Regions from separate parts of the Homo sapiens genome. Here region 2 is linked to region 1. Evidence: fine-mapped QTL for protein levels in blood plasma. A gene starts in region 1. The other region holds a variant in brackets. All regions are shown on one strand. Distances are between the middles of the regions. Region 1 holds the start of AHNAK2 (AHNAK nucleoprotein 2). Region 2 overlaps AHNAK2 (AHNAK nucleoprotein 2).

Evidence for each region. A credible set is the group of variants that fine-mapping cannot tell apart. PIP is the posterior inclusion probability: the model's chance that the variant is causal. Protein levels are from antibody-based Olink assays in UK Biobank. Linkage for the fine-mapping came from a reference panel and not from the study's own genotypes, which makes the PIPs less certain.
Region 2: its variant is the best candidate, but not a certain one, in a credible set for the plasma level of the AHNAK2 protein (UK Biobank, PIP 0.65). The variant lies in the coding sequence of AHNAK2. If it changes the protein, the assay may bind it differently, which can mimic a change of level.

Annotation. Positions count from the first base shown.
Region 1 is chr14:104,975,731-104,980,951 of GRCh38, reverse strand. It overlaps AHNAK2 (AHNAK nucleoprotein 2), which reads left to right and starts at 2,578. Exons shown (of 7, transcript NM_138420.4): 1 at 2,578-2,769. The coding sequence starts at 2,715. RefSeq lists silencers at 2,435-2,594, 4,701-4,920 and an enhancer at 5,121-5,200.
Region 2 is chr14:104,948,294-104,953,514 of GRCh38, reverse strand. It overlaps AHNAK2 (AHNAK nucleoprotein 2), which reads left to right. Exons shown (of 7, transcript NM_138420.4): 7 at 1-5,221. Among named protein-coding and RNA genes, the nearest start is that of PLD4, 26 kb to the right of the region's middle. The variant C/T (reference allele first, on the strand shown) is at 2,254.

The DNA of each region.
Region 1 (5,221 bases):
GCAAAGCCAAGGGGAGTCCCCGTAGCCCTGCGCAGATCACGCCAGACAATCAGGAGAGGGGCCACTTCATTTGGATGGGGACCCAGGAGGCCACATGACTTTGTCAAGGGCACACACCTAAAGGGGCTGAGGACACAAAGGTGGGTGAGTGCCCTGAGCGGCCCCTCGTTCCCAGGCCCTGCAGCCAGACTCAGACACAGAGGACTAGCGGGCGAAACCCCAGCAGACCAGGCAGAGGCATAGACACATCCAGGGACACACACAGAGGTGTATGCACCCAGGCACCCTAGTGGCTCTCTCCCTGTGTCCAGGGAGTGACTGACTCCAGGTGACCAGAGCAGGGTGGGCTCCTGGGGAGGGAGGTAAGTGCAGGGCCTCTGGACCCCAGGCAACACTGCTCAGCCCCGAAAAAAGGACACTGCGAGGGGGTGGGGTAAGACCTGCGCCAGGTCCCCACACGAGGGAGAAGGTTGTGCCCATCATGCCTGGGCTCACTGGCAGGAGGCTGCCAGGGCCTCTTCCCAGCAGTGGCTCTGGCGTCCATCTGACCTGCTGCTGGATGGCTGCCCGGTGGCTGCAGCGCGGCTAACGGGAACTGTCTAGGGTGAGTCATCGTGCCCGGGTGGCTCACCTGGGCCCGCTAGCTGTGCGTGGTCTCCAAATGAGCCCAGGAATGCGTGTGCCCCTGTGTGTATGTATACACGTGCATGGGTCTGTATCCTGGTGTGGGTGTTCATGCATGCAGGCCTGAGTGTATCAAATATCTCAGGTGGCCTGTGTCTGTGTCTTGGTGAGTTTGTGATCTTATCTATGAGTGTGTGTGTCTGCCTGGCCCTTCCGGTACAGCCTGGCCTCTTCCCACCCCAGGAAAAGGTGTCCGTGTGTGTGTGTGTGTGTGTGTGTGTATGACAGAGCATGTGTGTTTGTGTCTCTATGTGTATGTGTCTGTGTGTCTCTGTGTGTGTGTCTGTGTGTGTGTGAGTGTGCCTCTATGTGTACCTGTGTATCTCTGTGTCTGTGTCTCTGTCCATGTGTGTCTGTGTGTCTCTGTGTGTGTCTGTGTGTGCCTCTGTGTGTGTGTCTGTATGTGTACCTGTGTATCTGTGTGTCTGTGTCTCTGTCCGTGTGTGTCTGTGTGTCTCTGTGTCTTTATCTCTGTATGTATGTATGTGTGTGTGTATCCGTATGTGTGTCCGTGTGTGTGTGTGTCCCTGCATCTGACCCACACCCCTGGACATTGCCAGGCAGCTCCTCATGGAGGTGGCGGTCCTCTCCTGGGTCTCTTCCAGCCCTGCCTTCCCCGACAATCCCTGCAGAACTCCACTCCTTCTGGGGTATGCCCGGTTTGGGTCTACACCAGGCCAGGCGTCACCAAACTCTTAGAACTCCCTTGGGCCCCTGCCCTCCCTGTCCACACCCCCAGGTGTGCTGCCTCTGTGTGGTGCCCAAGCTAGATCCCAGGGAGGCTCCCACCCTCTGCACTCTGATCCTCACCAAGTCCCCTCTGCCTGCATATCCTTTCACTCCCTCCCATACCATGGCCGTGGTTCCACTGCTCCTGTTTCCAGCTGTGCCCCATGCCAACACCCCTAGCCACCTGCGCAGTCTTTCCTCAGCTCTCACCACGCTCAGAGACCCTGCTTGGAGCCTTAAGTGGCACCTCCTACCGACAGGAGCCCCCTCAGCCTCCTTGCTGCCCTGCCCCCGCCCACTGGGCCTGACTTTCAACCCCAGCCCTTTTGCCCCCATTCTCTGCACACACGCTACTCTGTCCCCTCTCTCCAGAACGCTTCCTACACTGCCTGGCACATGTCTCACCCCTAAGGTCCCAGCTTACACTGCCAGGAGCCCTCCAGGACCTCCGTTCCCCCGCCCCCAGGGCAGTGCCGCCCTGCAGAACGCCTCATCCTTACAGGCTTGCTTGTGTCTACGCCAGACCTGGAGCCCCTGGGGCAGGGCCAGTGGGGTGCTGGTTGCCGCTGTGTCCTAGGCCCTAGGCTCTTGACAAGAATCAGCAGAAAGGATGACTCTGGGCGGGGTTCTGGCTCCAGGACTGCCCCCAGCGCTGGGCGCTCCCGCACGCGGCGCCCACCCCGCAGCCCTGCCCGGGGCGCCCTGTTCCCGCTGCACGCTCTCAGCCGCGTCCTCGTATCTGCCACCCACCAGCCCCTGCAGAATTCTATCTTGTCCTTATGCTGCCAGATCACCTCCTGCGGTGCCCGCGACCCCTGTTGTCCCCGCAGGCTGCCCCCCACCCCAGCTTCTGACTAAAGTGTCTGTCTCCCCCGGAATGGGAGGTGAAGACAGCGGCAAGTCCAGGAGCCTCGGTGCGGGGATCCAGAGGTCGCTCCCTGGCGGGAGTCCAAAGTTAATTCTGCGGACGCGACAGGCGGGCCGGGGGCGCGGGGTGGGGCGGGGCCTGGCTGGGAGGGGCGGGGCCGCGGCGACGGCAGCCAATGGGCTGAATGAGGCCGACGGCACCGCCCGCGAGCGCGCTCCGCAGTGGCCCGGCAGGGCTGGGCGGAGCCGGGCGGGGTCCTAGCTGAGCGGCTGGGTAGCCTGGCGCGCGGTGTCCGCAGTCCGAGGTCGGCCGCCCGCGGCAGCGCAGGGCAGCGGGGCAGAGCGCGGCTCCCGCCCGCCCGCCCCGTGCGCCGGAGCCGGGACCAGCGACTGGACGCGACGGGCCGCCAGGCCCGCACCGCCTGGCCGCCGCGATGTGCGACTGCTTCCACATGGTGCTGCCCACCTGGCCCGGAACCCCCGGCAGCGGTGCGCCCCTCCCCGCCTGCAGCCCGCTCCCCTGGGGCGGGTGGGCTACGCGCGAGGGCGCGCGCCGGGGCGTGTCCAGGGGCGCGCAGTGCGGGCCTTGGGGGCGGGGGACTCGGAGACGCCTGCGGGACTCGCGCGTGGTTCTGGGCCTTCCCGGCCGCTGGAGTCTCTTCTCCCATGCCTCGCGTTCTACCTGTCCGTGGCTGTAGGTTCCTGCTCCTCTCCCGGCCTCTGAGACTGTCTCTGTCGCTCACTTTGTTTCTCGGTGGCTGACTCGTCTCTGTCGCTCACTCCCTCTGTCACTCGCGGTCCCTGTCTGTCTCTCCTTCTCGCTCCTGCCCCGCTCCTGGGACGCTGTCTGGTCGAGAGGCGGCCTCCTGGGAGGTGCTACCGCACTCTGGAGCAGGGCTGGTGTCTGCAAGGGGCGTGAAAGCCGGGGCCGCCGGGACCCGGGGCACCTGCACCAGGCTTGCCCTCTCACCTGCTTTGCGGGAGAGCAGCCAGGCTGGTCCAGGAGTCTGGGCTCTCCACTTTGGTCCGGGGCTTCCAGGCAGGGCTGGGCTGCGTCTACTGTGTGGCTGTGTGGTGGGGTCGCTGGCTAGGTGGAGGCTGTGGCAGGGCTAGGCCTGAGGTCTGGGGCCTGGTGAGGGGCCTGAATGGGGTCAAAGTCAGGCCACAGGGTCCCGCAGTGCTGGGCAAGGGAAAGTGGGTGCTACCTACTGGCATGCCCCCAGGGATGGTCAGTAGCCTCCCTCTGAGCCGCAGGCTACGGCATGTGTACCTGCTGCTCTTTGTGTGTCTGTCCCTGCACTGGGCCTGGTTCCGGGGCCTGGGTGTCTCAGCATCTTGGAGGGCAGGGCTGAGGGGGGCAGGGCAGTCCCTTGGGCGCTGGGTCTATGCTGCTGCAGCTGACCACACCCAGGGCATTGGCAGCCACTGGCCAGGGGGTTGGGCTGGCCGGCACTGGTGCAGGCTGGACCCCACTCCTTGGGGAAAACAGGTCAATGCTAATGGTGCCGACAATGCTGCAGGTGAGAGGGGTGCCCCTGGCCTGGGCATGCCCCCCAGCTGCAGCAGGCACTACCAAGGCCCCTCCTGTGGCCTGTCTGTCTGGTGCGCACTTAGGGTGGGAGGCTTGTCTGGGGGGCTCCAGAGCAGGGAGGCCCCTACAGCACCTGCTTCACGGTGTCGCAGATGGGAGCCCAAGGTGTTTGGGCACAGCAGCGGGAGGATGATGGCTCCGGTGGGCTGGAGGCCCCTGGCCCCCTCCTCTTTCACTATGACTGGCCCTGCCCACATGGCTGCAGGTCGACCTCCTCAGAGGGAGAAGGGCAGGGCCCCCAGGCATGGGACCACTACCCTGCCCCCAGCTTCCCTGCACAGCCTTTCTGCTCTGCTTCCTCCTCACTCACGGGCACCCAGAGACTCCCAAGCTGCAGGGTCCAGGACCATCTCATCCACCCCCTGCCTCCACAGAGGCTTGTGCTGGCTTCATGGTTCCCAGCCCGTCTGGGGCAGTCCCTCCCTGTGTCCAGCCTACGGAACCATCCGCTCTTAGGGAATAAGGTCAGTGGCTCTCGCTGGAGCTTTGGTAGGAGACTTGCAAGATCAGAGACCTTGGGAGTTCTGTCCAGCACACCGGTTCCCAGACCCTCCCCAACCCTGCGGCCCAGGAACGTGCATTCCTGACAAGCACCCTGCCAACTACTGCCTTTCCCAGCCTGGATTTGGTCCAGGCCTTTTCCACCTGCAGTTTCCTCTCAGCAGGCTGGAGATGGGCGGACTCTCCCCTGCTCTCGTCTTCCTGTCCAGTCCAAACCTGCCCTCTGCCCGACACACCAGGCACCAGCCCAGCAGGGAGCCATCTCCTGGGCGGCTTTTGTGCCGAGGCTGCCCCCTGGTGGCCATGCTGGGACCACCCCACGCAGCGCTGCCGACTGTAACACCAGCCAGTTCACTCCCAGTGGGCTCTGGGTGTCACACTCTTGCCTACTCCAGGGGCAGGTTGCCTCTTTCCCAGGGGCAGAGCTGGGCCCCTGATAACTGGGGAGACAGGGAACCCCTCCCCGGCCCCGGCCCCCACCCTGCACCTGCTGCCCCGGTGTGGCCTGAGCACCTCCCACGACCCCCCAAGAAAGCACCACCGTGTTGGGAAGGCCCCAGGTGGTGATACCATGCGAAGATGTGTGGGTGGTCTCTTCTCTGCGGTGGGGGTCATGAGATGGCTGGGCCCTTTCCCAAGAAGGGTGCAAAGCAAGGCAGCTGTGGAGGTGGTCTCGCTGTTCTGTGCCTCGCTGGTGCCCTCTTCAGGGCCTCAGGCTGCAAATGTGGGTCAGGACCTCACATTCGGGGTCAGGAGTGATTGCAGCTGCCTGTGCTGCTAGCTCCACGCAGCCAGGGATGCCGAGTGACAGCGCGGGCGGGTCTGTCACCACCCTGGTGTCTCCCTGAC
Region 2 (5,221 bases), 27 kb after region 1:
CAAAAATACAACTAATACACGATGAAAAACGCTTAAAAAAGGAACAAATTCTGACAGAAAAGGAAGTGGCCACCAAAGACAGCAAGTTCAAAATGCCCAAGTTCAAGATGCCATTGTTCGGGGCGTCAGCCCCAGGCAAGTCCATGGAGGCCTCGGTGGATGTGTCTGCGCCGAAGGTGGAGGCCGACGTGAGCCTCCTCTCCATGCAGGGGGACCTCAAGACCACTGACCTCAGCGTCCAGACCCCTTCCGCTGACCTGGAGGTCCAGGATGGCCAAGTGGATGTGAAACTTCCGGAGGGCCCCCTGCCCGAGGGAGCCAGCCTCAAAGGGCACCTGCCCAAGGTGCAGAGGCCCAGTTTGAAGATGCCCAAAGTGGACCTCAAGGGCCCCAAGCTGGACCTGAAAGGCCCCAAGGCGGAAGTGACAGCCCCCGATGTGAAGATGTCTCTGTCCAGCATGGAGGTGGACGTCCAGGCCCCGAGAGCAAAGCTGGATGGTGCGCGGCTGGAGGGGGACCTGTCCCTGGCCGACAAGGAGGTGACTGCCAAAGACAGCAAGTTCAAAATGCCCAAGTTCAAGATGCCATCATTCGGGGTGTCGGCCCCAGGCAAGTCCATGGAGGACTCGGTGGATGTGTCTGCGCCGAAGGTGGAGGCCGACGTGAGCCTCTCCTCCATGCAGGGGGACCTCAAGGCCACTGACCTCAGCATTCAGCCCCCTTCCGCTGACCTGGAGGTCCAGGCTGGCCAAGTGGATGTGAAACTTCCGGAGGGCCCTGTGCCCGAGGGAGCCGGCCCCAAAGTGCACCTGCCCAAAGTGGAGATGCCCAGTTTCAAGATGCCCAAAGTGGACCTCAAGGGCCCCCAGATAGATGTTAAGGGCCCCAAGCTGGACCTGAAAGGCCCCAAGGCGGAAGTGACAGCCCCCGATGGCGAGGTGTCTCTGCCCAGCATGGAGGTGGATGTCCAGGCCCAGAAGGCCAAGCTGGATGGTGCGTGGCTGGAGGGGGACCTGTCCCTGGCCGACAAGGACGTGACTGCCAAAGACAGCAAGTTCAAAATGCCCAAGTTCAAGATGCCGTCGTTCGGGGTATCGGCCCCAGGGAAGTCCATCAAGGCCTTGGTGGATGTGTCTGCACCCAAGGTGGAGGCCGACCTGAGTCTCCCCTCCATGCAGGGGGACCTGAAGACCACTGACCTCAGCATTCAGCCTGCTTCTACTGACCTGAAGGTCCAGGCTGACCAGGTGGATGTGAAGCTCCCGGAGGGCCACCTGCCCGAGGGAGCTGGCCTTAAAGGGCACTTGCCCAAGGTGGAGATGCCCAGTTTCAAGATGCCCAAAGTGGCCCTCAAGGGCCCCCAGGTGGACGTCAAGGGCCCCAAGCTGGACCTGAAAAGCCCCAAGGCGGAAGTCACAGCCCCTGATGTGGAGGTGTCTCTGCCCAGCGTGGAGGTGGACGTCGAGGCCCCGGGAGCCAAGCTGGACAGTGCGCGGCTGGAGGGGGAACTGTCCCTGGCCGACAAGGATGTGACTGCCAAAGACAGCAGGTTCAAAATGCCCAAGTTCAAGATGCCATCGTTCGGGGCGTCAGCCCCAGGCAAGTCCATCGAGGCCTCGGTGGATGTGTCTGCACCCAAAGTGGAGGCCGACGTGAGTCTCCCCTCCATGCAGGGGGACCTCAAGACCACTGACCTCAGCATTCAGCCCCCTTCCGCTGACCTGGAGGTCCACGCTGGCCAGGTGGACGTGAAGCTCCTGGAGGGCCACGTGCCTGAGGGAGCCGGCTTCAAAGGGCACCTGCCCAAGGTGCAGATGCCTAGTTTGAAGATGCCCAAAGTGGACCTCAAGGGCCCCCAGGTGGAAGTCAGGGGCCCCAAGCTGGACCTGAAAGGTCATAAGGCAGAGGTGACGGCCCACGAAGTGGCTGTGTCTCTGCCCAGTGTGGAGGTGGACATGCAGGCCCCGGGAGCCAAGTTGGATGGCGCACAGCTGGACGGGGACCTGTCCCTGGCTGACAAGGACGTGACTGCCAAAGACAGCAAGTTCAAAATGCCCAAGTTCAAGATGCCGTCGTTCGGGGTGTCTGCCCCAGGCAAGTCCATTGAGGCCTCCGTGGACCTGTCTGCACCCAAGGTGGAGGCCGACATGAGCCTCCCCTCCATGCAGGGGGACCTCAAGACCACTGACCTCAGCATTCAGCCCCCTTCCACTGACCTGGAGCTCCAGGCTGGCCAATTGGACGTGAAACTCC[C/T]AGAGGGCCCCGTGCCCGAGGGAGCCGGCCTCAAAGGGCACCTGCCCAAGCTGCAGATGCCCAGTTTCAAGGTGCCCAAAGTGGACCTCAAGGGCCCTGAAATAGACATCAAGGGCCCCAAGCTGGACCTAAAAGACCCCAAGGTGGAAGTGACAGCCCCTGATGTGGAGGTTTCTCTGCCCAGCGTGGAGGTGGATGTCGAGGCCCCAGGAGCCAAGCTGGATGGTGGACGGCTGGAGGAGGACATGTCCCTGGCCGACAAGGACTTGACTACCAAAGACAGCAAGTTCAAAATGCCCAAGTTCAAGATGCCGTCGTTCGGGGTGTCTGCCCCAGGCAAGTCCATCGAGGCCTCAGTGGATGTGTCTGCGCCGAAGGTGGAGGCCGACGTGAGCCTCCCCTCCATGCAGGGGGACCTCAAGGCCACTGACCTGAGCATACAGCCCCCTTCTGCTGACCTGGAGGTCCAGGCTGGCCAAGTGGACGTGAAACTCCCAGAGGGCCCTGTGTCCGAGGGAGCCGGCCTCAAAGGGCACCTGCCCAAAGTGCAGATGCCCAGTTTCAAGATGCCCAAAGTGGACCTCAAGGGGCCCCAGATAGATGTTAAGGGCCCCAAGCTGGACCTGAAAGGCCCCAAGGTGGAAGTGACAGCCCCCGATGTGAAGATGTCTCTGTCCAGCATGGAGGTGGACGTCCAGGCCCCGAGAGCAAAGCTGGATGGTGCGCAGCTGGAGGGGGACCTGTCCCTGGCCGACAAGGCGGTGACTGCCAAAGACAGCAAGTTCAAAATGCCCAAGTTCAAGATGCCATCATTTGGGGTGTCGGCCCCAGGCAAGTCCATCGAGGCCTCGGTGGATGTGTCTGAGCCGAAGGTGGAAGCTGATGTGAGCCTCCCCTCCATGCAGGGGGACCTGAAGACCACTGACCTCAGCATTCAGTCCCCTTCCGCCGACCTGGAGGTCCAGGCTGGCCAAGTGAACGTGAAACTCCCGGAGGGCCCCCTTCCCGAGGGAGCCGGCTTCAAAGGGCACCTCCCCAAGGTGCAGATGCCCAGTTTGAAGATGCCCAAAGTGGCCCTCAAGGGCCCCCAGATGGACGTCAAGGGCCCCAAGCTGGACCTGAAAGGCCCCAAGGCGGAGGTGATGGCCCCCGACGTGGAGGTGTCTCTGCCCAGCGTGGAGGTGGACGTCGAGGCTCCAGGAGCCAAGCTGGACAGTGTGCGGCTGGAGGGTGACCTGTCCCTGGCCGACAAGGATGTGACTGCCAAAGACAGCAAGTTCAAAATGCCCAAGTTCAAGATGCCGTCGTTCGGGGTGTCTGCCCCAGGCAAGTCCATCGAGGCCTCGGTGGATGTGTCTGCGCCGAAGGTGGAGGCCGAAGTGAGCCTCCCCTCCATGCAGGGGGACCTCAAGACCACGGACCTCTGCATTCCGCTCCCTTCTGCAGACCTGGTGGTCCAGGCTGGCCAAGTGGACATGAAGCTCCCGGAGGGCCAGGTGCCCGAGGGAGCCGGCCTCAAAGGGCACTTGCCCAAGGTGGATATGCCCAGTTTCAAGATGCCCAAAGTGGACCTCAAGGGCCCCCAGACAGATGTTAAGGGCGCCAAGCTGGACCTGAAAGGCCCCAAGGCGGAAGTGACAGCCCCCGATGTCGAGGTGTCTCTGCCCAGCATGGAGGTGGATGTCCAGGCCCAGAAGGCTAAGCTGGATGGTGCGCGGCTGGAGGGAGACCTGTCCCTGGCCGACAAGGACATGACTGCCAAAGACAGCAAGTTCAAAATGCCCAAATTCAAGATGCCGTCGTTCGGGGTATCGGCCCCAGGGAGGTCCATCGAGGCCTCGGTGGATGTGCCTGCACCCAAGGTGGAGGCCGACGTGAGTCTCCCCTCCATGCAGGGGGACCTGAAGACCACTGACCTCAGCATTCAGCCCCCTTCTGCCGACCTGAAGGTCCAGACTGGCCAGGTGGATGTGAAGCTCCCGGAGGGCCACGTGCCCGAGGGAGCTGGCCTCAAAGGGCACCTGCCCAAGGTGGAGATGCCCAGTTTGAAGATGCCCAAAGTGGACCTCAAGGGCCCCCAGGTGGACATCAAGGGCCCCAAACTGGACCTAAAAGACCCCAAGGTGGAAATGAGAGTCCCCGATGTCGAGGTGTCTCTGCCCAGCATGGAGGTGGACGTCCAGGCCCCAAGAGCCAAGCTGGATAGTGCGCATCTGCAGGGGGACCTGACCCTGGCCAACAAGGACCTGACTACCAAAGACAGCAAGTTCAAAATGCCCAAGTTCAAGATGCCGTCGTTTGGGGTGTCTGCCCCAGGCAAGTCCATCGAGGCCTCGGTGGATGTGTCTCCACCCAAGGTGGAGGCCGACATGAGTCTCCCCTCCATGCAGGGGGACCTCAAGACCACTGACCTCAGCATTCAGCCCCTTTCCGCCGACGTGAAGGTCCAGGCTGGCCAGGTGGACGTGAAACTCCTGGAGGGCCCTGTGCCCGAGGAAGTCGGCCTCAAAGGGCACCTGCCCAAGCTGCAGATGCCCAGTTTCAAGGTGCCCAAAGTGGACCTCAAGGGCCCCGAAATAGACATCAAGGGCCCCAAGCTGGACCTAAAAGACCCCAAGGTGGAAGTGACAGCCCCTGATGTGGAGGTGTCTCTGCCCAGCGTGGAGGTGGACGTCAAGGCCCCAGGAGCCAAGCTGGATGGTGCGCGGCTGGAGGGGGACATGTCCCTGGCCGACAAGGACGTGACTGCCAAAGACAGCAAGTTCAAAATGCCCAAGTTCAAGATGCTGTCGTTTGGGGTGTCTGCCCTTGGCAAGTCCATCGAGGCCTCAGCGGATGTGTCTGCGTTGAAGGTGGAGGCCGACGTGAGCCTCCCCTCCATGCAGGGGGACCTCAAGACCACTGACCTCAGCGTTCAGCCCCCTTCCGCTGACCTGGAGGTCCAGGCTGGCCAAGTGGATGTGAAACT